Linked DNA regions of Homo sapiens. The protein of the gene in region 3 purifies or fractionates together with the protein of the main gene of each other region. This does not show direct contact. Each region holds a gene or a part of one and is shown on either strand. Other genes may lie near its edges.

Region 1 (3,500 bases), on a different chromosome or scaffold from region 3:
AGCTATTTAAGTCCAATTTACCAAGCTCTTAGAAGGCATAAAAGCAAGCTTGTCCAACCTGCCTTATTCTGTTGTTGTTTTGCTTTTAGGCTTTTAGCGCCTGAAAGCCATGGATTTTAGTTTCTGTCTCTAGTGATAAGCAGAAAAGAGGGAGGAGGAAGGGGCTTTACCGACCCAACCAGAAACAGAAACTAGGAACCCATGACTGTATTCTCTTCCTTGGACACTTCTGGTATAAAGCATCCCACTAGAAGAGTTATTACAAAATCAATTTAATGGGTTACTTAAAAAATATGAAACAGAAAATATAAGAGCACAGTACAGACAATAAAATTAAACAGTATTTTGAAACTTTTGTTTCAGATATACGCTACACCCACATCTGTATGGGTTGCAATATAAAGACAATAGGTTAAGTCCTATATTTTTATTAGCTTAAAATCACCACCACAAGAGAAAAATTGAAGATTCAGGTATTGAGGCTGGTGGTAAAAATGGAAAAACCATGGACACCGTGGAGTCAGATAAATCTGACCCTGATCATGCCCCTGCTGCTGGCTATATAACCTTCGACAAATTATCCAACCAGAAATGCTAATTTGTAAAACAGGAATGTAACCAGTAGCAGAGGTGCTAGTTACCAGCCTAGTCCTGCTGCTTTGGAACCATCATACAAACCCAGTACCACCTACCTTTCTAGGCCTTTTTTTGGTTACATTAGAAACTTTTCCATTATGAAGCCACCATTATCTTGGGTTTTCTACTCTATTCAAGTGAACCTAATCCTCACTCACCAGGTCATGATGACTAAATGACTAAAGTTCCTATTACAATTCCTAGTACAGAGCAGACATTCAAGAATGGTGCTGCTTGTGCTACTAATATTCTTGTTTTAATGCTCCTTCCCTACCACCAGCCCCTATCAGAAATGCTACGCAGCGGCCAGGCATGGTGGCTCACGCCTGTAATCCCAGTACTTTGGGAGGCTGAGGCAGGTGGATCCCCTTAGGTCAGGAGTTCGAGACCAGCCTGGTCAACATGGCGATACCCCGTCTCTACTAAAAATACAAAAAAGTTAGCCAGGCATGGTGGCACACGCCTGTAATCCCACCTACTCAGGAGGCTGAGGCAGGAGAATCGCCTTAACTCAGGAGGCAGTGGTTGCAGTGAGGCGAGATCATACTGCTGCACTCCAGCCTGGGTGACACAGCCAGACTCCGTCTCAAAAAAAAAAAAAAAGAAATGCTACACAGCTCTTGTATATAAACTTAATCAAGAGTATTTTCAGAATTATGACTCTCTCTTAAAATAAATCAAGACCTATGACACAGAACAAAACCAGGACTCCAAACCACTGGTAAAAACAGAAGTTGTAAAGCACCATCTAATTCTTTTTTTTTCCTTCTCTATATAAGAATGCCTATACTTTTTGACAGGCCATTTTGTGAAGTAAATATAATGTGAAGATGATCTGGAAAACTTCACTCTAAACAAAAATGTACTACTAAGAAAGCAGTACTTATTATGTCTCATTTATCACTCTTTAAGAACTAGATCCTCTTGCCCTATAAACATACATAATTATTTGTTAAAGAAATTTTTTTTAATTCTTTTCTAAAAAAAACTAGTCATCCCCCAGTATACGAAGGGGACTGGTTCCAAGACGCCCACATACACCAAAATCCCCACATACTTAAGTTCCAGGCTGACTGGAACCAGCAGATTTGAAAAGCTGGCCCACTATATACATGGGTTTCAAATCCTGCAAATACTGCATTTTCCATCCACGTTCGGTTGCACATGTGCAAACCACGGACACAAAGGGCTGACTATATTTATTGAAAAAACCTGCATTGTGAACCTACATAATTCAAACCCATGTTGTTCAATGGTCAACTGTACATCCTCAACAACCAGCTAACACAATGATTTGACTGACCCAGACCCTTCCTGGAGAATACATATAATCCTGGTAAAAGTACCATTTGAGAATAGATGATTTCTAGTAAAAGAAAACATTTCCTCTTTATCAGAGACTGCAAATAACTTCATGGTAGTTAAGTAAACTCTAGAGATCATCAACAATGCTGGAATAGCGCGGGAAGAGGAGTACACTGTCAATAAAATGACAAAAATGGTTGCACATATGATATGTCCTTAAATTCAAGTTCACTGGCTTTGTAAAGGGTCACTGGTCTCAAAACAGAATTCACTCAGTATTCAGCCCTCAGCATCTAATCAAAGCTTCTTGTATCTGACATTCATACATACCTTCATCTAAATAGGAATCTGCCAAACTTCCTCCTAGCTTCTTGATAATATGAATTGCCTCCAGGTTGCCAGAGCCTTTCAGTCTGAGAACTGCTTCTACAGCTAACTTTGTAAAGTGGTCTTTGTGATGAGTAAGAAGTTTTGAGGATAATGTTGTGCCCGCAATATTCATTAAATCTTGACGGAATTTAACTTCATCGGAACTAAATAAAACCAACCAAATATACATATTAACCCTACTTTACTTTTCAAAATTTATCTAGATATTCATGTCAATAGATAATTTTACCCTAACTGATCAAGTCTGTAAGCTATATGAAAAGAATTAAACCTCAGCAGTAATCAAGAAACACAAATTAAAGATGTTATTTTCCCCACCAAACTGGCAAAATGCCAAAAAAAAAAGAGGGGTGGGGGCCACACAAGCATGCAAAAGTCTAATGTTGGCAAGAATGTGAGAAATGGCCGGGCACAGTGGCTCACGCCTGTAATCCTAGCACTTTGGGAGACTGAGGAGGATGGATCACTTGAGGTCAGTTCAAGACCAGCCTGAGCAACATGGTGAAACCCCATCTACACTAAAAATACAAAATTAGCTGGCTATGATGGCACATGCCTGTAGTCCCTGCTACTTGGGAGGCTGAGGCAAGAGAATCGCTTGAACCCGGGAGGCAGAGGTTGCAGTCAGCCGAAGTCGTGCCACTGCACTCCATTCTGGGCAACTCTAAGAGCGAGACTCCGTCTCAAAATAAATAAATAAATAAAAGGACGTGAAAAACAAGTATTATTATACAGTTGTGAATGGGCAAATAAATAGAAGTGCCTTAAAACAGTGGTCCCGGACCTTTTTGGCACCAGGGACTGGTTTCATGGGAAGACAATTTTTCCACCTGCTGCTCACCTGCTGTGCAGCCCAGGTTTGGGGGTGCCTTAAAACACACACACTTACCTTTGGACCCAACAATTACACTTCTAGAAACCTTTGGGCTATGTCGCAACGTCACAAAGTTATTTTATAATGCTAAAAATCATCAAATACACAAATCTCCCCCTACAGATAGGTTAATACAGTCATTCTAGCCAAATATTCAAATGTGTAACTCTATTAAAATACTGCACAGAAAATTGACATCCAAAAATGTGCTTAATATTTAACTAGGTTAAAAAGAGGCTAACAAATTCTCTATACAGTATTATACTATTTGCTTTATTTGTATATTTTGATGATA
Region 2 (3,500 bases), on a different chromosome or scaffold from region 3:
CCAAAGGATTCTGAAATTAGAAGAATACTTGGCACATAAAAGGCATTCTACAGATATTTGTTGAATATAAATGAATTAGTGTGATTAATGCTGTTATTTAGCTCACAGCACAGGCCTCCATTCCAATTCAGGTTTTTTTTTTTTTTCTTTTGAAACAGAGTTTTGCTCGTTGCCTAGGCTGGAGTGCAATGACATGATCTCGGCACACTGCAACCTCCACCTCCCAGGTTCAAGCAATTCTCCTGCCTCAGTCTCCCAAGTAGTTGGGATTACAGGCATGCGCCACCATGCCCGGCTGATTGTTTGTATTTTTAGTTGAGATGGGGTTTCTCCATGTTGGTTACGCTGGTCTTGAACTCCTGAACTCAGGTGATCCACCCACCTCGACCTCTCAAAGTGCTGGGATTATAGGTGTGAGCCATCACGCCTGGCCTTTGCAGTGAAAAAAAATTTTTTTTTTTTTTTGAGATGAAGTCTCACTCTGTCACCCAGGCTGGAGTGCAGTGGTGCAATCTTGGCTCACTGCAACCTCCACCCTCTGTGTTCAAGCGATTCTCCTGTCTCAGCCTCCTGAGTAGCTGGGATCACAGGTGCCCACCACCATGCCTAGCTAATTTTTGTATTTTTAGTAGAGTTGGGGTTTCGCCATGTTTGCCAGGCTGGTCTCGAACTCCTGACCTTAAGTGATCCACTTGCCTTGGCCTTCCAAAGTGCTGGGATTACAAGTGTGAGCCACCGCACCCAGCCTTGTGATTTTCTTTTATGTTATTTTTCTTCTTTCCCAGGCTGTCTTCTTCCTTGTTCCTTTTCCTCAGAATCAAGTAGAGACTGTGGTGACTCACCATATGCATTAAGTTTACTGAGCTTTCAAATGGTGTTGAAAACAAAATTAAGTTTAAAAAAGGTCAAGTCAAACAGTCTGGCAGAGAAATGGGGACTGGATAAGTACCAAATTGGTAATTATAATAATGGTCTTGGAAACCATGAATGGAATTCAGTTCAGACCCTTGCAGGGTACAGGGAAACCATGTCTAACATAATACAAATTATACTGTTGGGAGAACATCTCAGAAAGCATCAGAAGAGTCTCAGACAGTGTCTGAAAAATATTGCGGCTTTCTGAAATAAAATTCAGAAAAGCGGGAATAGACGTAAGTAATGTTACATAGTACACTTCAGATTTAAGATTGAGGTATTGCTAAAAATGAAGATCTTGAAGAATGAATAAAGGAAGTAGATTTAGACGAGGAAGAGGTTAAAATATTTGTTGTTGTTCTTTTCCAGGTTGATGACAGAAAGGATGGGCATGTGGCATTCTAGACGTAACAGCATTAGATTTGTTTGAAAGAACTGATAAACAGTGTCCAGAATTAAGCACATTTCCTCCATTTTCTCAAAAGAGTTTCCTGGAGAAGTCAGAAGAAATAATACAATTTCCTATTAAATGCAACATATAACCACTATCTTGAAAGGTCTAGACCACAGTATCTACCAAGCAAAGTACAAGGGCAATTTGAGAGAGAAGACTGAGCTAAGAATTTTTCTGATTTGATCATTTCAGAAGATTGTTAGGCATTTCGTACCAAAATTTGAAAATAATGGGTTTAGACTTACTCTCTCTGGGGGCAGGTCCTTTGAATTGACTTCTGATAGGCAACAGTGCCATGTTTCCGATGAGTTTGGTATCAGGATCCATGAGAGAAGAGTGGTAAGCCTGTAATGGCAAGCCCAGGAAGAACACAGAAGCAGAAAAAGAGCAAATGTCACTGTGGCAAACAACCTTCCCTTAAAGGAAAAAAAGAGTAAACCACCCAAGATTAATTAGGGGAGGGAGAAGGGATAGCAGCATTGAGGTGCGAGGGCTGGTTCTTTCTGGCTCAAGAAAACCAATTGTTAAATTTTGAGGCATTTTTCAAGCTGGTTGTTAAACACAGCTCTTCTCAAAAATCAAATTATATAAACTTACAATTAAGTAAATGATGTTGGCTGGACGTGGTGGCTCATGCCTGTAATCCCAGCACTTTGGGAGGCTGAGGCAGGCAGATTGCCTGAGCTCAGGAGTTTGCAACCAGCCTGGGCAACACAGTGAAACCCCATCTCTACTAAAATATAAAAAATTAGCCAGGCGTGGCGGCGTGCGCCTGTAGTCCCAGCCATGTGGGAGGCTAAGCTGGAGAATCACTTGAACCCAGGAGGCGAAGGCTGCAGTGAGCCGAGATCGTGCCACTGCACTCCAGCCTGGGCAACAGAGCAAGACTGTCTCAAAAAAAAAAAAAAAGTAAATAATGTTAAAAACAATGATGCTTAAGTATTCATCACTTCTTTTTTTTTTTTTGAGAAGGAGTCTCACCATGTTGCCTAAGATGATCTCAAACTCCTAAGCTCAAGTGTTCCTCCTGCCTCAGCCTCCCAAAGGGCTGGGACTACAGGTGTGAGCCACCACACCTGGCTACTTCCTAATTTTTTTTTTTTTTTTTGAGACAGAGTTTGGCTCTTGTTGCCCAGGCTGGAGTGCAATGACATGACCTTGGCCCACTGCAACCTCCGCCTCCCGGGTTCAAGTGATTCTCCTGCCTCAGCCTCCTGAGTAGCTGGGATTATAGGGATAAGCCACCACGCCCAGCTAATTTTGTATTTTTGGTAGAGACGATGTTTCTCCATTTTCGCCAGGCTGGTCTCGAACTCCCGACCTCAGGTGATCTGCCCGCCTTGCCCTCCCAAAGTGCTGGGATTACAGATGTGAGCCACTGCACTGCACTTGGCCTACTTCCTAATTTTTTTTTTTTTTTGAGACGGAGTCTTGCCCTGTCGCCCAGGATGGAGTGCGGTGGCGCGATCTCTGCTCACTGCAACCTCCGCCTCCTGGGTTCAAGCGATTCTCCTGCCCCAGCCTCCCAAGTAGCTGGGATTACAGGTGCGTGCCACCACGCCCAGCTAATTTTTGTATTTTTAGTAGAGACAGGGTTTCACCATGTTGGTCAGGCTGGTCTCGAACTCCTGACCCCATGATCCACCCGCCCCGGCCTCCCAAAGTGCTGGGATTACAGGCGTGAGCCACTGCACCCGGCAATAACCTAATTTTTAAAAATTACATTTTACTATTGTCTATGTTCTTAAGGTTATTATTACGAAATACTAAATAATGGGGTGCTGCTGTGCATCTCTTCCAATTCTATGTTCGGTGACATCACATTGGTATCTGGCCAAAGTATTTCCACTACAGAAAGACAAACATCATATAAATCAGGGTACCCAGCCCCCAGCTAAACCAAGACCCAAGCACTATCTTTTCAGCTCTGCCACTTCATGGCGTTATGCTTTTGACCAAGACATCATTCTTCTTCTCTTAGCTTGTTTCCAAATTTGTAAAATGAGAAGATATATATTCCCTTCAGTGGGTAGGTGTGTGTTAAAGGAAGGGATAAAAAAAATCACATTTATGAGAGCATTTTGTATGCTGATTCTTAGTTCTGCTTTTTACAAGATGTCTGGCTTTTTAT
Region 3 (3,500 bases):
ATGATAACAATTAGACAAAAATACAGTCTGCCCTAAAGTGCACCAAAAAAGATATTAATAAAATAAAATGGACTACATGGCAAAAGATGTTTAAATACATATATATGTAAATATTGCAAAACTGAGGCCAAATATATCAATCATATCAATACATATAAATATGCTTAAATCACCTATCTATGAGTATAAATGAGCTTAAGTCATCCAACAAAAGGCAACATTTTCATATTGACTAAAAAGCAAAACAATATTTTGGGTACAGACAATTCAGAAAGAATAATAAAAGGATGGAGAAATATATATATATCTATATCAGACAAACACAAGGAGAAGCAAGCAGGGATCACACATCTTGATATCTGACAAAGTACAACTCGGCTGAGAAAACAATTAGAAGGCTACTTGATATGCTAAATCAACAACTCTAGTGAAGAGACAAGTTATTTCTATCTAGATAACCAATATGGCAGCAACAACTTTCATAAAGCAGAACCCACAGAAAATGCGAGGAGACCTTAATAGGTTACTAACAATAGGAGGCCTTAGTATGCCATTCTCAGTCCATGACAGACTAGGTACACACACACACAAAAATGTGAGCCCAGACATGGTGGCTCACCCCTGTAATCCCAGCACTTTAGGAGGCAGAGGCGGGTGGATCACCTGAGGTCAGGAGTTCGAGACCAGCCTAGCCAACATGGAGAAACCCCGTCTCTACTAAAAACACAAAAATTAGCCAGGCATGGTGGCGGGTGCCTATAATCCCAGCTCCTCGGGAGGCTGAGGCAAAGAACTGCCTGAACCCAGGAGGTGGAGGTTGCAGTGAGCCGACATCACGCCACTGCACTCCAGCCTGTACGACAGAAGGAGACTCGGTCTCAATTAAAAAAAAAAATTGGAAGCCCTAAATAACATAATTAATAAGGTAGTTCATATAGACACATTAAACTCAGAACTTATAAAGATTGTATCTCCTAGCCAGGCGCGGTGGCTCATGCCTGTAATCCCAGCACTTTGAGGGGCCAAGGTGGGTGGCTCACCTGAGGTCAGGGGTTCGAGACCAGCCTGGCCAACATGGTGGAACCCCGTCTCTACTAAATATAAAAAATTAGCTGGGCGTGATGGCGGGCGCCTGTAATTGCAGCTACTTGAGAGGCTGAGGCAGGAGAATTGCTTGAATCCAGGAGGTGGAGGTTGCAGTGAGCCGAGATCGCTCCATTGCACTCCAGCCTGGGCAACAAGAGTGAAACTCTGACTCAAAAAAATGAATACAAAGAACATTCGCAAACCCTCTTAGGCCACAATAAGTGAAAACAAACAAACAAACAAACAAACACCAGAACTATCCCACTAAAATCAGGAATAAAATAATAATGCCCACTAACTCCACTCTGATTTAAATTAACATTGCTTTGGAGGTAATGGCCTCTGCACTGTGTCAATAAAAAAGCAGTTAAGAGTCCCTAAAAATGGAAAGGAAGAGGTAAAACAATCTCTTTTGCCAATAACAGGTTTTGGTTTTTATTTTTGAGACAGCGTCTGGCTCTGTTGCCCAGGCTGGAGTACAGTGGCTCAATCTCAGCTCACTGCAACCTCCGCCTCCCAGGTTCAAACGAGTCTCCTGCCTCAACCTCCCATGTAGCTGGGATTACAGGCGTGTGCCACCACGCCCAGCTAATTTTTTTGTATTTTTAGAAGAGACAGGGTTTTGCCATGTTGGCCAAGCTGGTCTCAAATTCCTGGCCTCAAGTGATCTGCCTGCTTCGGCCTCGCAAAGTGCTTGCAATTACAGGTGTGAGCCACTGCGCCAGGCCCAATGACAAGTTTTTATATCTGAAAATCCCTAGGGATCAAGGGAAAAATTTATACAAATAATATGAGCATTCTGTAAAGCAGCACGTTATAAAATGAGTAACTACCATGAAAAACCACCATGTAATCTAGGAATGAAAAAACTAACAATCTTCATATATTCAAGAAAAACAAGATAAAATGGAAGAGAAGGCACCATTTATGATAGCAAAAAAAAATCAAATACATAAAGTTAACAAGAAATCTACCTGCAGAAACACCACAATATTCCTAAAAGACACAAAATAGACTTGAACTAATGGAGAGATAAACCATGTTCTTTGATGGGAAGACTCAGTATTATACAGATAATGATGCTCATTAAATTAATTTTTAAGTTTAATAAAATCCCAATAAAAATGCCATCAGGCTTTCTCTCCCAGAACTAGAGAAACTGATTACAAAGATCACTTGGAGGAACAACAATCGAAAATACATGGGAAAGCCCTAAAAAGGAATTAGATGGGCAGGGGAAGCCGGCACCATTAGAAATGAAATCATTCTAAAGAGCCTAATTAAAACTGTGTGGTGCTGCTATTATGAACAGACCAATAGACTAACTCAACACAATACAAAATCCAGAAAGAAACACAATTGCATAGACAAATGCAGCATATGATAAAGGCAGCATCTCCAGTCATTGGGTTTTTTCCATAAATTATGTTGAGATAAACAGGACAGCCATAGCCACACACACACAAAAGTGGATCCAACTGGGTCCATTCTTCATACCTTATCTCAGGATAAATTCCAAATGAATTAGAGATTTAAATGAAAAAAATGAAACCATTAAAAAAAAAAAAAAAACCTACCAGCTGGGCACAGTGGCTCACATCTATAATCCCAGCACTTTGGGAGGCCGAGGCAGGTGGATCACCTGAGGTCAGGAGTTTGAGATCAGCCTGACCAATATGGTAAAACCCCCTTCTCTACTAAAAATACAAAAATTAGCCCGATGTGGTGGCATGCACCTGTAGTCCCAGCTACTCGGGAGGCTGCAGCAGGAGAATCGCTTGAACCCAGGAGGTGGAGGTTGCACTGAGTGGAGACTGTGCCGCCGCACTCTAGCATGGGCAACAGAGTGAGACTCTGTCTCAAAAAAACAGAAAAGAAAAAGAAGAAAAGAAACCACCATGTAATCTGGGAATGAAAAAAACCTTTCTTAACTATGACTCAAAATCTAGAAACAATAAAGAAAAGATGAATAAATCCGATTGCCTAAAGAAAACAAACTTTGCATGGTAAAAGACAAATGATAAATAGGGGAAATATATTTGCAACGTATATCATTAAGGGTTAATATTCTCTATGTGCAGAAGAAAGTTAATGGGCCTGAGACTGCTGTCTCTTAGAAAGTCCTGCTTGGAGGAATGGCCTTTAATTGGTATCTAGGATCTTGGAGTTCAGGCGTTCCCACCATTCCCTAAATGCTAAAAGTAGTTCACTGCTCCTAGAGTGGCAAACAACGTGGTTTATGCCAATGCCTTGCTTTCCTTCTGGGACTCTGGAATTCCGGCACGTGCTATGCACAGGGTGCCTGCATGACAAGTCCCCAGTGAAAACCTTGGGCCCTGTGTCTCTGAGGAGCTTCCCTGGTACGGAGCATTGCACACGTGTTGTCACAGCCTGATGCTGGAGGAATTAACTGC
Region 4 (3,500 bases), on a different chromosome or scaffold from region 3:
GAGATGGGAGTTTTGCCATGTTGCCCAGGTTAGTCTCGAACTCGTCAGCTCAAGCCATCTGCCTGCCTTGGCCTCCCAAAATGCTAGGATTACAGGCATGAGCCACTGCAGCTGGACTTTTTTTTTTTTTTTTTGAGACAGTCTCACTCTGTCACCCAGGTGGGAGTGCAGTGGCCTCATCTTGGCTCACTGAGACCTCTGCCTCCCAGGTTCAAGCAATTCTCCTGCCTCAGCCTCCTGAATAGTTGGGACTACAGGCATGCGCCACCACACCCGGCTAATGTTTTTTCTCTATTTTTAGTAGAGACGGGGTTTCACCACGTTGGCCAGGCTGGTCTCAAACTCCTGACCTCAAGTGATCCACCTGCCTCAGCCTCCCAAAGTGCTGGGATTATAGGTGTGAGCCACTGTGCCTGGCGCCCCCCGGGCCCCCTTTTTTTTTTCTTTTTCTTTTTTTTTTTGACAATGTCTTGCTCTGTTGTCCTGGCTGGAGTACAGTAGCGTGATCATGGCTCACTGTAGCCTCAAATTCCTGGGCTCAAGTGATTCTCCTGCCTCAGCCTCCTAAGTAGCTGGGACCATAGGCATACATCACCATGCCCAGCTAATTTAATTTTTTGTAGAGATAGGATATTGCTATGTTGCCCAGTCTGGGTCTCAAACTCCTGGGCTAAAGTGATCCTCTTGCCTTGGTCTCCCAAAGTGCTGGGATTACAGGTGAAAGCTACCATGCCCCGCATAAATCCTTATTTTCTAGAAACAAGAATATTCGGTTTTGTTTTTATACTTTAAATTTATGGAAAAAAAAGCAAATTTTGTTCTCTATTTTGTATTTGCCTGGGATACATTTATAGTTTAAATTTATTGGAAAAAAAAGCATTTTTTTTTTTAACATTTTGAGCACTTGAGCTGTTAGTCAAAAAACAGAATTTTTGCTCAATACATACATATTGGAAAGCTCAGATAAGAACATTTTAAAAGTAGTTTGAGACCTGGGCAACATGGTAAAACCTCATCTGTACCACAAATAGAAAAAATTAGCTGGGAGTGGTGGCACTTGCCTGTGGTCCCAGCTACTCAGGAGGCTGAGGTGGGACGATCACTTGAGCCTGGGAGCAGAGGTTGCAGTGAGATGAGATCATGCTGCTGTACTCCAATGTGGGTGACAGAGTGAGATCCTGTCTCAAAAAATAAAAAAAGAAGAAAAGAAAAAGTAAAATAAGTCTAAACAAACAGAGAGGGTAGTAAATTTATAAAATTTAAAAATAAAAAAAAAACCACTATAGGTTCAAAACAAAAAGGTGGGGCACAGAGGATTTATAGGGCAGTGAAACTACTCTGTATGGAGCTATAGTGACAGATACATGTCATTATACGTTCTCAAAATCAATAAACTATTCACCAAGAGTGAACCCTAATGTAAACTATGGGCATTGGGTAATGTGTCAGTAATGTAGGTTCATCAACTGTAACAAATGTAGCATTCTGGTGTGGAATACTGATAATGAGGGAGGCTTTATATGCCTCTGGTTGGGGAAGGGGGACTATGAGAAATGTCTGTACCTTCCTCTGAATTTTGCTGTGAATCTACAACTGCTCTAAAAAATTCAAATCTATTTAAAAAAAAAAAGTATAGGTTCAAGAAAAAATAATGAGTTAGAAAAACCATGTGATCTAATCCACTAAGACATTTCTTAAATTTTTATCTCAGAAAAAGTACAAAACAAATGCACTATAACGTTACCATGTAATGGAATTGTAACTTTATGTCCTGTTGTTCCTGTTACTGGGGCTGTGGCCATTGTTAGAAGAGTTTGACCAGGTAAAATTGATACATTTTCAGCAGTAATGCTTGAAGAAGGAGCGATTTTCAATTTTGTTCCTTCTGTTATGATCTTGTCCATAAGCATTTCCTTTGGGGGGTCCTCTCCAAAGAGTCTTCTCTTAGCACTCCCTGCGGTAGGAGAACTGTAGCGTTCATGGACAGAAATTGGAGACAATGGTTGCATATCTAAAAAAAAATAATAAATTTAAAACAGAAATGTATTCCAAAATAATAAATTAGGTTTACTCATTCACTCAACAGATAGTGAGTTACTTATGCTGGGCACTAGCTAGATATGAATAACATGGCCTTTGCCCTCATGGAATATGTAGTCTACTGGGAGAAAGAGGCATGAAATAAGTCACTACGATAAAACGTGAAAATTATGATCACTCATCTTCCTGGTTTCTTGAACCTCTGCCTACATTAAAGGAGCAAAACATTAAGGACAAAGTAGAGGTTGAGAGGTAGAATGAAGTGAGCACTAAATTTTAGTAGTAGTCCAATATCTCCCAATCTTACCTAGTAGAGAGCACCTGAGAAGAAGGGAAGCAAAAGCAAAAATCAGGAATTTGGGTCACAGTTTTGCCTCTTTGTGAATATTTGCACTCCAAGCAGTTTAAGGCGGTAGCTCTGGCTTTCTAATTTAGTAGATATGGAATCATCTTTAGTAAATCTATCAGAAGATATGAGTAAAGATGATATAAATCTGCTTACCTTGCCTTAATCTGAGGGTTGGCAGTACTGTGTTGATCAAAAATAAAGTAAGGATTATGGATTTTGCCTCTCTTCCTGTGCTATCCTTTCACAGGATCTGCTTTCCATTCCCTCTCTACCAGCTGCACGGGTTTTTCTAGCCCCTTACAACCCTACATCTTTTCTACATCTTTTTTCACAATTCTTCCCTCAACCAATTATTCCTTACAGGTAGGTCAATAATATGCTTTTAAAACAAAAGTATTTATTTATTTATGAGATGGAGTCTTGCTCTGTCACCCAGGCTGGAGTGCAGTGGCACGATTTTGGCCTACTGTGACCTCTGCCTCTTGGGTTCAAGCGATTCTCCTGCCTCAGCCTCCCAAGTAGCTGGGACTACAGGCATGTGCCACCATGCCTGGCTAATTTTTCTATTTTTAGTAGAGACAGGGTTTTGCCATGTTGGCCAGGCTGGTCTTGAACTCCTGACCTCAGGTGATCCACCTGCCTCATTTGGGATTACAAGCTTCAGCCACCGTGCCCGGCCTTCATTATTTATTTTTACATTCACTAGATAATTAGATAGTCATGTAATCTATTTTCTTTTCTTTTTTTTTTTTTTTTTGAGATGGAGTCTCGCTCTGTTGCCCAGGCTGGAGTGCAGTGGTATGATCTCAGCTCACTGCAAGCTCCGCCTCCCAGGTTCACGCCATTCTCCTGCCTCAGCCTCCTGAGTAGCTGGAACTACAGGCAACCGCCACCATGCCCGGCTAATTTTTTGTATTTTTAGTAGAGATGGGGTTTCACCGTGTTAGCCAGGATGGTCTCGATCTCCTGACCTCGTGATCTGCCCGCCTCGGCCTCCCAAAGTGCTGGGATTACAGGCGTGAGCCACTGCGCCTGGCCCTGTAATCTATTTTCAAAACATGTTCAAAAGGTATGAAAATGACCCCTGGCAATGATTTAGAAGCTCTCTGTA
Region 5 (3,500 bases), on a different chromosome or scaffold from region 3:
AGTGTTTTAAAGTGGGAATCTAGTCAGGTGAAGATCGAAAGCAAACAGAAGTCGCTGTGAGTAGGTAAGTACAAGAAATAGATTTGAGGTGAAAGAAAGAGAATTTTGGAGGCTGGGAGTGAATGACTGCAGCTGCTAAGCTACTTTGCACTTTCTAGTCTAGGTCTTTGGGCAGTGATACTACATATAGGTATTCAGCTGCCATCCAGAAGGCTATGGAATCACTCCAAAGGCTTCAGTAGTGCTCTGACATCATTCATGACTCTCTTCTCTATCATCTTATATCTATATAGTCTTATAAAAACCCTACCAAACTGTTCTTGTTAAGAGTACAGTACTTGGTGGTAGAAGCAGAAAACCTTTCCTCTTAATTAACCATACATTCATAATTGTTAAAGTCAGAGAAAAATAAATTATTCAACACTGACATTTTATTTTCTGAAGTTTTATCATTTTTACAAAACAAAACAAAATGAAACAAAAAGCAGGTATCAAAAACAGCAAAGAGTTTATAGAATTTCTGCACCAGTTTGCACATAAGTCAGTGATTACAAAACTGGCATCCAATGTAAATACTAAGCACAAGCTCACTTCCCTCTTGGTCAGGTGGTTTGTTTTAGAGCTACTCGATATTTATAACTTTTTATAAGCACCGGTCATTTTTTGAGAACTGATTTGGTTTGTCCAACAAAGTAAACAATTTTTTGCTGTGTGGCAGTTTCTTTTTTTAGAAAACACTGAGCTAAAACACAGAATGTGTATTTGTTTGGATCTGAACCAAATCTTTTGAGATCCCAACTACCCTGAAGAACACTGAAGACATTTACGGGGCATATTAAATGGTATCTTAAATACTAGTTGTATACCTCATAATGTCTAAGGCAGCTATTATATTTCTAAAGAAAGTAGCATTTCATTCAGAGGCTGCCCAGAGTTTAAATTACACCATAGTTTTTCTTTCTTTCTGCAAATCATTCTTTCTGATTTGCAGTTTTTTCCAAACAGAGCCATATTAGTGGAACAAAAGTTTGATGTTCATGCCCAACAAGCTCTGATATTTTATGGATACATTTGTATAAAGCAAGACTTCTTGCTCTGAACCCTGGGTGACCACAAATAAATTGAGGGGCCATGATTATTGGATGCTGAGAGAAAGTAGCATACTTAAACCCACAGTACAGATAATCAGGAGGCAAGCAAAAACAAAGCTATAACTTAGCAGTGGTATTCACCCACCACTTATTCCAAAAACATATTTTGCTTATTAAATAAGGGAAATATGGTCCAGTTTTGCAATGTTAATAGCTGCCAGTCTCTCATATTTTTTATAAATATCATTTCCTGACTAGCAATGAGCTAGGAAACTGGCCTCAAATTCTGACCAAATCTCTCAGTATTAGTTAAAAATAATACAAAACAAAACAGAACAAAAAACCAGCCAACAGGGGTTAAAAGTTGCACAATTAAACTTGAATGTAAATTATACTATATACAGATTGGTATAAACATCACTGAAATGGTTTTGAAAGGATGAAACACTTCTATTTTAACACAATTTCTTCTATATTATCCCAATTTTCATTAAAGGACAACTGATATGTAATTTTTTTCTTTACAGATATGAAAAAGCAAGAAGGCAAAGCTGAGAGAAACAGATGCTACCCACAGGGCAGCGGTGGCATTTGGTTGTTTTGGTCTTTGTACCAGCAATTCCCACTCCCGAGGCAGATAATCCACTTCCTGCCAGACTACACAGTTTTTCTTGCAGTCAAGACACGAACAATGGACCCTACTCCTCCAGCAGCAAGTGCCTAAAAACAAACCAAGATGTAAATGTTGACAGAATAATAAAAGGTCAATTCTCATATTTGGTAAAACATTTTTCTTAAAGAAGGAATGGGCACTGCTATAGACCCTGAATTTATTAGTTAACAAATAATAAATTCTTGAGCACCAATTATGCACCAGGTACTGTTCTTGGCACTGAGGTTACAGTAATAAACAAAACCTTGAAAGTCCCTGCCCTCATGAAGTTACATTCTAGTGAGATACTAGTTTACATTTTAGTACATTAATTCTAAATAATGTTTTAAAAAATCTGCAGCATAGGCCGGGCGCGGTGGCTCACGCCTGTAATCCCAGCACTTTGGGAGGCCGAGGCCGGCGGATCACGAGGTCAGGAGATCAAGACCATCCTGGCTAACATGGTGAAACCCCGTCTCTACTAAAAATACAAAAAATTAGCCGGGCGTGGTGGCGGGTGCCTGTAGTCCCAGCTACTCGGGAGGCTGAGGCAGGACAATGGTGTGAACCCAGGAGGCGGAGCTTGCAGTGAGCCGAGATTGCGCCACTGCACTCCAGCCTGGGCGACAGAGCAAGACTCCGTCTCAAAAAAAAAAAAAAAAAAAAAAAAAAAAAATCTGCAGCATAGTGTTCCTGCTCAAAACAGGTGGACATTCTGCATTTCTCATTCTCACCACATAGTCAGAAGAAAATTCAAACTGGGATCAACCATCCCAACTTCCACTTCGATTAGTCAGCCTTTGTCAGATTTTTTTTCTCCCAAAGAAAGAAGGTATTGTTTAATAGCTAAGAACTTAGAAACTTTAACTCTGACTCTAATTTGAAAAATAGAGAGTAATGATCAAGTATTAGGAATCTGAGCTCTGGTTTCTTTCTGTTCAAAAAATATTTATGGAATACCTTTGTATACTGAGTACTGTGCTAGATGCTGGGGATACAAAAGTGAACAAATACAGCATTTTCTGGTCTAGCATGAGGAGACAGACATATAAACAGGTAATTTTAATCTAATGTATGAAATGAGAGTTGTGCTGCAGGTGCTATTAAAGCACCAGGGAGAGGCTTATACCCAGATTAACAGTATAGAGGAATGTTTCAGCTAAGGCTTCATGGAGGAAATGACACATTAAAAGAATGAGTAGGTGACAGGCTAACACCAGAAAATCATGAGCAAATGTATGGAGGTGTGAAACAATATGGTGCATTCAGGAAAAAGGCTGGCATTGCTATAGCCTGAGGGGAAGAATGACATGGAAGATGAAGCTAGACTTGGGAACTTTGACTTTATCCTGCAGGTGACTGACAAGGGCAATTTTGATTTTAAAGATATCATTTTGATGGCTGGGTGGAGAACAGATTTGAAGGAGGCAAAACTGTTAACTGGGAAACCAGTCAGGAAGCTATGGCAACAGACTGGGAGAGATGCTGTGAACAGCTGCATTAGATACGCTTGAACAGATAGATTTCAGAAATACTTCGAAGATTGGTAAAAACTGGTGACTGACATTTGGAAGAAATGAAGACTTCACACATGCCTCAGTTTCCTCAGTGACAAAAGAGGAATAATAGCAAGCATTTCCCTCCATTTTTATGAGGATTAAATGAGTTAATATTTATAAAGTCCTTTGAAGAATATGTGGAATATAATAAGTAATCAATGTTCACTGCAATCTTGAGGCTATGCTAGAACTACGCTG
Region 6 (3,500 bases), on a different chromosome or scaffold from region 3:
TCTTTATAGCATTGTAGACCCTTGGCTTTAGTGGATTTAACATTCAAGAATTTGACTCCAGGTAATCTGAAGGTCAATAATGCAGAGTAACCACTACTTTTACAAGACATACTTTCCATTTCAAAATGATACAAGGTTTAAGAGTAGAAGCAAGCTAACTATGCTAGTAGGGCAGAGCTGACTATCTTAGACTTGCAACTCTATATTGTTATATCATTTTCTACCTATTCTATGGATAGCTATTACAATTATCTATCTGTTCTAAACATTACTTGTGACTAAAAATTTTGTTTCTTTGATGATTAAGGTTAGTTCATGGTTAATGTCATACATGTTATCACAATAAGTACATAATTATTTTTCTGGCACCATTAATTTTAATAGTCTTATAAGGTAGATTATACAATATAGCACATCATGGAAAAAATGTTCTCATGGTATCAGTAAGTTTGGAAATTTAGAAAGATCTTGGGAATCTCTTCAATAATGACAAGATTCTATAGCAGTTCACGTTCTCCAGGTCACCATCCCTGCCTCCCTGCCCATTTAACTCAATAATTAATCCATGGCTTAAACGTGGCCAGATTTTAATGATAATAGTATATTCTTATTCTGAAGTCCAACTTGGTCTATGTAAGCAGCTGGCAATTCAACTATGAAGATTTTTTTTTAGAGTATTTTTCTCGCTGAGCAGCAAACGGTGTTGGAGTAACACCTCCCTGGTGAAAACAAAATGGGACTAAAAATTTAACAGGTGACGACTAGTCAAAATTCTATGCCATTATTTCATGTAACACTAAGAAAGAATTTATGTAAAAGTAAACTATGACACCATGCTCTTTTTATTTATTTATTTTTGAGACGGGGTCTCATTCTGTTGCCCAGGCTGGAGTTCAGTGGCACGATCACAGCTCACTGCAGCCTCAACCTCCTGGGCTCAAGCAATCCTCCCACCTCAGCCTCCCAAGTAGCTAAGACCACAGGTGTGCGCCACCATGCTTGGCTAATTTTTAAATTTTTTATACAGACAGGGTTTCGCTACGTTGCCTAGGCTGGTCTCAAACTCATGGGCTCAAGCAATCCTTGATCTTAAAACTGATGAAATATAGTATATCAAACTAGTCTCCTTGGGGAATTTTTATTTATTCCAATAAAGTACATTTATTACAATAATATTTATACAAAAAACAAAATTCTTAAATGAGCAGTCTTCTGGTGATATACCACTACTACTCGAAACACTTAAATTTTTTATATTTTGGAAATGTCAACGATCCATGATGCATTTAATATATTTACCCAAGAGTCATTGTAGAAGACTAAGATTTAATTTGGGGAACAATAACCATTAGTTTTAAGTAGTAAAACCTGGTGAAGAGGACAGGCAATCAAGCTAAAAGTAATAAAAAGATAAGACAGTATACTAAAGAGACTAATTTTTAAATATCTGTATGGTGATTTTGTGATTGATTTAGAAGAAGAGATTTCAATAATTATTATATCAATTGGAAACTAACAGTCATGAGAATTTATTTTGACTAATGGAGTGGTCAAAAAGGTCAAAAAGGAATTTTGAGAGAATACATGTGTCAACATAAAGGTTGTTTTTTTGTTGGTTTTTTTTTTTTTTTTGAGACAGTCTTGCTCTGTTGCCCAGGCTGGAGTGCAGTGGCACGATCTTGGCTCACACAGCCTCTGCCTCCTGGGTTCAGACTATTCTCCAGCCTCAGCCTCCTGAGTAGCTGGGACTACAGGTGTGAGCCACCACACCTGGCTAATTTTTTTGTATTTTTAGTAGAGACAGGGTTTCACCTGTATTTTTAGTTGGCCAGGCAGATCTTGAACTCCTGGCCTCAAGTGGTCTGCCCACCTTGGCATTCCAAAGTGCTGGGATTACAGGCATGAACCACTGTGCCTGGCCTACACAGTGTTTAACAATGGGAAAAAAAAAAAAAAGAATGCCAAATATATCAAAAGTATGAATATTAAGTTCAGGAAGTTCTGAGAGTTCTGCTTTGGCAATGATTTTCTGGGTTGTTTCATACCAAATTTTCCTCTGGTTACAATTTAAAAAACCAGATAAAATACATTTTTAAAAATTTTTGTAAGCAAGCAGAGACCTAACAAGATAGTGAGAGTTTGGTGTTGGGGAAGAGAGGTTTCCAAGATTCAAAAGAAGAGGGAAGCAAGATATATGAGCCTAGCATTTGAAGCTCTTCCCCTCAAGATGACTGCTGATTTCCAAATCAAAAGCTGTGACTGAGACCCTGAACAGCAAAGCCACCCAAAGTCTCATGATGACAGAGAGGAAAATGGATGTTCAGGGACCGTTAAGGATGAGAGGTGCTGATAAATACCTCAGGACTTTTGATGATTCATACCCAAAGGGGTGGATATCAGGAGAAAGGGCAAACTGGAAATACCCCAGGCCTCATGTGGACCACATCCTGACTGGATTATGGCGATCTACTTGAAAAAGTAAAGTCCCTTTCTCCAAAAATAACTTTATCCACAGCCTTAAATTATTGCTATAGTTCTTTTTCTACACTATCCATCACTCAATTAAGAAAAACAAAAACAGTCCGGGCGCAGTGGCTCATGCCTGTAATCCCAGCACTTTGGGAGGCCGAGGCGGGCGGATCACAAGGTCAGGAAATCGAGACCATCCTGGCTAACATGGTAAAACCCCATATCTACTAAAAATACAAAAAAATTAGCCGGGCATGGTGGCGGGCACCCAGCTACTCGGGAGGCTGAGGCAGGAGAATGATGTGAACCTGGGAGGCAGAGTTTGCAGTGAGGTGAGATGACGCCACTGCACTCTAGCCTGGGCAACACAGTGACGCTTCATCTCAAAAAAAAAAAGAAAAAAAAAAGGACAAATTAGCCTTACAAACAAACCTGATAACCAAGACAGAACAAAAGATAGATAATAAAAATGAGTGAGATATTTGTTACCATCAGAAAATTTTAATTGCAATTCACATATTCAAGAAATTAGGTGGGGCACAGTGGCTCATGTCTGTAATCCCAGCACTTTGGGAGGCTGAGGCAGGGGATCACTTGAGGTCAGCAATTTGAGACCAGCCTGGCCAACAAAGCAAGACCTTGTCTCTACAAAAATAAAAATTAAAAAATTAGCTGGGTGTGGTGGTATTTGCCTGTAGTCCCAGCTACTGAGGAAGCTGAGGCAAGAGGATTACTTGAGCCAGGAATTGGAGTCTGCAGTGAGCTATGACTGTGCCACTACACTCCAGCCTGGGCAACCAAGAGAGACCCTGTCTCAAAAAAAAAAAAAAAAAAAAAATTAAATGACAAGATATAATTATTGTTCAAATTATGAGGTATAACAGTACTGTGGTGTGTATATATATATATATATATATATATATATATGGTTTTTTGGGGTTTTTTTTGAGATGGAGTCTTGCTCTGTCACCCAGGCTGGAGTGCAGTGGTGCGATCTCGGCTCAATGCAAGCTCCGCCTCGTGGGTTCACA
Region 7 (3,239 bases), on a different chromosome or scaffold from region 3:
ACCTGTTTCTTTCAATTTTCAAACTCAAAAATACTGAATCAAATTTTAGTTAAAACACTTCCTTTTGACTTGTTCCTCAATTAATGCTCAATTATCTCATATATTCAGGAGGTTAAATCCCCCCTAAACATTAATGCTATTTACAAATTTGATCGAATACCCTTACGCATTTCAAGCTAAAATTTGAACATCCTTCTCCCAAGTATTTGAAATAATCACAGAGAAACTCCCAGACAAGCCATGCACTAAACGCTGCTCAGATTCCCACTCGCATCCCAGCCCTTTCTCCCTCCCACCGCCTTCCGCAGCAGTCCAAGACAGCAGCCCACTCCGGGCCCACACACTGCACCTGGGCTGGGCACCGCCCCACCCTGGCTGGCTCCCTGACTCAGTGCCTGTGCCATCTGCAAAGGCACGGTGACAGCACTTACATTTTATAAAGACACTATGAAGATGTTCATGAGATCTGCGAAGACAGCGCGCAAAGAAAGCACAACCCGTGACTCGTATTTAATTTATTTAGAATCTTACAAAAACAAAAAACAAAACAAAAACCACCACAACAGAAAAAAAAACTAAATACAGAATTTGTTACGCTTCACGGTTGATCGTTTTTACTTGCAAGAGTAAATAAACCTTGCTAAAATGCAGCCAGTACATTTTTATTGCATGAGACCAAATTTTTCAGTTACATATCAAAAATGATTGGGATAATCAATTCCGGACGCTTGGTACCGTGCTCCCACGAAAGGCTGGATGCAGCAATGCAGTATCATTGGAACAGGGCGCACCCTTCACACACTGATGGACACGCTACAACAGGAGCGATAACAAAAGGGAGATTTAAAAAAGAGAACCAAATGAAAACACACCAAGAGCTGACATCCACCTTTGTTTCAAGTTGTCTTTGGATCCCATCAGATGTTGTCTCCAGATGCACCATGTCAGATTAGTAAAGGAGAACCATCTACACCTACATAGAAAAGTATCCTTTGCTCAGAGGAGGTAGAACCTGGCCAAAGTTTTATTGCAGAGATACAGTGTACCTCTTCCCACCTCTCATGGATGATGGAAGATACAAGTGGTTATTGAAAAATCATATCAGTAGTTTGCAAATTCAGTATAAACCATGAACAGGATATTTTTCTGATAGCGGTGAGACTGCAATGTGCTATGTAGAAAAAAAGCTCTCTCTGCCCCATAAAGTGGGAGTCAGAAAGAGGGCTCAAGCTTCTTTATCCTCTTCAGTGCCATAAATACTGTCACAGCAAAAAGGCCTTCAGTGTCTGCTGGCCAGAAACATCTGCCCAGGCACAAATGGGCCACAAGGGCAGGGTACTGGTTAGGGGCCCGCAGTGGAAAAGCCAGACAGGTTCTCACCAGGGGCCTGCAGAGTGGCCTTCACTCTGGAGGACGCCTGAATTACAAGTATCAAAAAGAACCCGCCTTTTTGGGCTTCTTCTTTTCCTTGCTTAGCCCTGCACTAAGGGGCAGTCTTGCTGGACGGTGCCCTGCCACGTTGCGGCAGCCCAGATGGCCGCACTGCCAACCACAGCACGGCTTCCCCATGGGCGCCAGAGGGAGACTGAGCAAGGAGGGTCTGCGTGGAGGATGCACACTGGAGGCAATCTGTGACAGGCCCCAATTCACGACAAATTTAGTTCCCAAGACTGATCCAAATACAGAATGCTTTTACATTTTTCACCAAGTCTACCAAGTTGAATAGTAATGAATGAAACTTGTACATGAATGAAAAGGCCCCAAAGACGCTCACGGCAATCCTTGAAAGTTATAAAGGAACATTTTCTTACAGGTGCAAAATTGTGAACAAATACCCAATGTCTGCCTCCCGGGTGCTCAACACCATCATTTTGATGAACCATCCGGGTCTTCCCAACTCGAATTATTAAAAACGCCTCGATCCCGCTCTGCTTCTAGGCTTACGGCTGATGTAGACAAGATCCACTCACCGATACAAGGGTGGAGAGCACAGCCGTTCAGGGTACCCCAGGGACCAGTGCTGCAATGGGAATCTGCTTGTCTCACCCTCCAGCAGAGTCAGCCTAGGAGGCTCCAGAGCAGTTGCTTGGCTCTCTTTTGGAGGACAATTGTTCCTTAATGTACATTCTCTCTCTTTTTTTTTTTTCGAGACGGAGTCTCGGTCTGTTGCCCAGGCTGGAGTGCAGTGGCGCGATCTGGGCTCACTGCAAGCTCTGCCTCCCAGGTTCATGCCATTCTCCTGCCTCAGCCTCCTGAGTAGCTGGGACTACAGGCACCCGCCACCACGCCTGGCTAAGTTTTTTTTTTTTTTGTATTTTTAGTAGAGACGGGGTTTCACCGTGTTAGCCAGGAGATGGTCTCAATCTCCTGACCTCATGATCCGCCCGCCTCGGCCTCCCAAAGTGCTGGGATTACAGGCGTGAGCCACCGCACCCGGCCAATGTACATTCTCTAAAGTCACCTGTCAATAACACACTAGGCCTGCCTCCTGCCTGCTATAAATATCCTCAACAGGTTATAAACAGCAGCAGGCTACCTGTGTTCATTGCAAGTAAATTACTCATCATTTGTAGGTTAAAAGCATAGGCCCGACTTCTTAAATAAACATAGGGAATTTGCTGCAGCAGCAGGCCAGAAACCACTGTTTCAAATCTGCAAGATTTTCCTATCAGGTGGGAAGACAGAGATAAGAAATATGGTAAGGCCTGAAAAATTGCAAAAGTAGAAGCAAGTCAGGTTTGCTGATCTAAGAGCTAAGTTTGATCCCAAATGCACTGAAGAAGTTAGAGGAGCTTAAAGAAGTCTCAGGAAGCATTTTTTAAAATGTGAAAACATCAGGCTCACTATAGCTTCCAAAGAACAACATAAACGAGCATCAGCAGTCATACAATGACAGTATCAGAAATGGCACTCAAGTGCATCCCCCCAGTACAATGCATTGCACACAACACAATAAGACATAGTAAAAAACATTAACACAAAACAGGAATTCTACAGCAAAGATGCAAAACTGAATTCTAAAATACAGGAACAAATACTTTTCTAAATGAAAAGTTTTCCATACTTTTCTTAAAAAAAAAAAAAAAAAAAAGTCATAAGATGCCCCATATGGGAAAGTCAAGAAAAGAATAAATAGAGCTGAAGGGAAGAGGGAAAAGGGAGAAACAGGTGGGCAGAGTCCCAATTTACAAGAATTATTTACATTCAGAATCCAGAAGAACTCAACATTTCTCTATATA

The links.
Region 1: the proteins of ACTR3B (region 3) and CCT2 purify together in Homo sapiens (affinity purification with mass spectrometry; 2 studies listed by BioGRID and IntAct, with this or other methods). This does not show direct contact.
Region 2: the proteins of ACTR3B (region 3) and ARPC3 purify together in Homo sapiens (affinity purification with mass spectrometry; 8 studies listed by BioGRID and IntAct, with this or other methods). This does not show direct contact.
Region 4: the proteins of ACTR3B (region 3) and RBL1 purify together in Homo sapiens (co-immunoprecipitation; one large-scale study listed by IntAct). This does not show direct contact.
Region 5: the proteins of ACTR3B (region 3) and ARPC5 purify together in Homo sapiens (affinity purification with mass spectrometry; 6 studies listed by BioGRID and IntAct, with this or other methods). This does not show direct contact.
Region 6: the proteins of ACTR3B (region 3) and ME2 fractionate together in Homo sapiens (co-fractionation; one large-scale study listed by BioGRID). This does not show direct contact.
Region 7: the proteins of ACTR3B (region 3) and SBNO1 purify together in Homo sapiens (affinity purification with mass spectrometry; one large-scale study listed by BioGRID and IntAct). This does not show direct contact.

What each region holds. Positions count from the first base shown.
Region 1 is NC_000012.12:69,588,459-69,591,958, reverse strand, and holds part of CCT2 (T-complex protein 1 subunit beta), read right to left. Parts: intron 2,475-3,500; coding exon 2,272-2,474; intron 1-2,271. UniProt on the Homo sapiens protein: Component of the chaperonin-containing T-complex (TRiC), a molecular chaperone complex that assists the folding of actin, tubulin and other proteins upon ATP hydrolysis.
Region 2 is NC_000012.12:110,443,838-110,447,337, forward strand, and holds part of ARPC3 (actin-related protein 2/3 complex subunit 3), read right to left. Parts: intron 1,715-3,500; coding exon 1,615-1,714; intron 1-1,614. UniProt on the Homo sapiens protein: Component of the Arp2/3 complex, a multiprotein complex that mediates actin polymerization upon stimulation by nucleation-promoting factor (NPF).
Region 3 is NC_000007.14:152,766,252-152,769,751, reverse strand, and holds part of ACTR3B (actin-related protein 3B), read right to left. Parts: intron 1-3,500. UniProt on the Homo sapiens protein: Plays a role in the organization of the actin cytoskeleton.
Region 4 is NC_000020.11:37,033,498-37,036,997, forward strand, and holds part of RBL1 (retinoblastoma-like protein 1), read right to left. Parts: intron 2,012-3,500; coding exon 1,745-2,011; intron 1-1,744. UniProt on the Homo sapiens protein: Key regulator of entry into cell division. Directly involved in heterochromatin formation by maintaining overall chromatin structure and, in particular, that of constitutive heterochromatin by stabilizing histone methylation.
Region 5 is NC_000001.11:183,625,784-183,629,283, forward strand, and holds part of ARPC5 (actin-related protein 2/3 complex subunit 5), read right to left. Parts: intron 1,812-3,500; coding exon 1,749-1,811; 3' UTR 1-1,748. UniProt on the Homo sapiens protein: Component of the Arp2/3 complex, a multiprotein complex that mediates actin polymerization upon stimulation by nucleation-promoting factor (NPF).
Region 6 is NC_000018.10:50,927,618-50,931,117, reverse strand, and holds part of ME2 (NAD-dependent malic enzyme, mitochondrial isoform 1 precursor), read right to left. Parts: intron 1-3,500.
Region 7 is NC_000012.12:123,288,609-123,291,847, forward strand, and holds the end of SBNO1 (protein strawberry notch homolog 1), read right to left. Parts: 3' UTR 501-3,239; downstream 1-500. UniProt on the Homo sapiens protein: Plays a crucial role in the regulation of neural stem cells (NSCs) proliferation. Enhances the phosphorylation of GSK3B through the PI3K-Akt signaling pathway, thereby upregulating the Wnt/beta-catenin signaling pathway and promoting the proliferation of NSCs.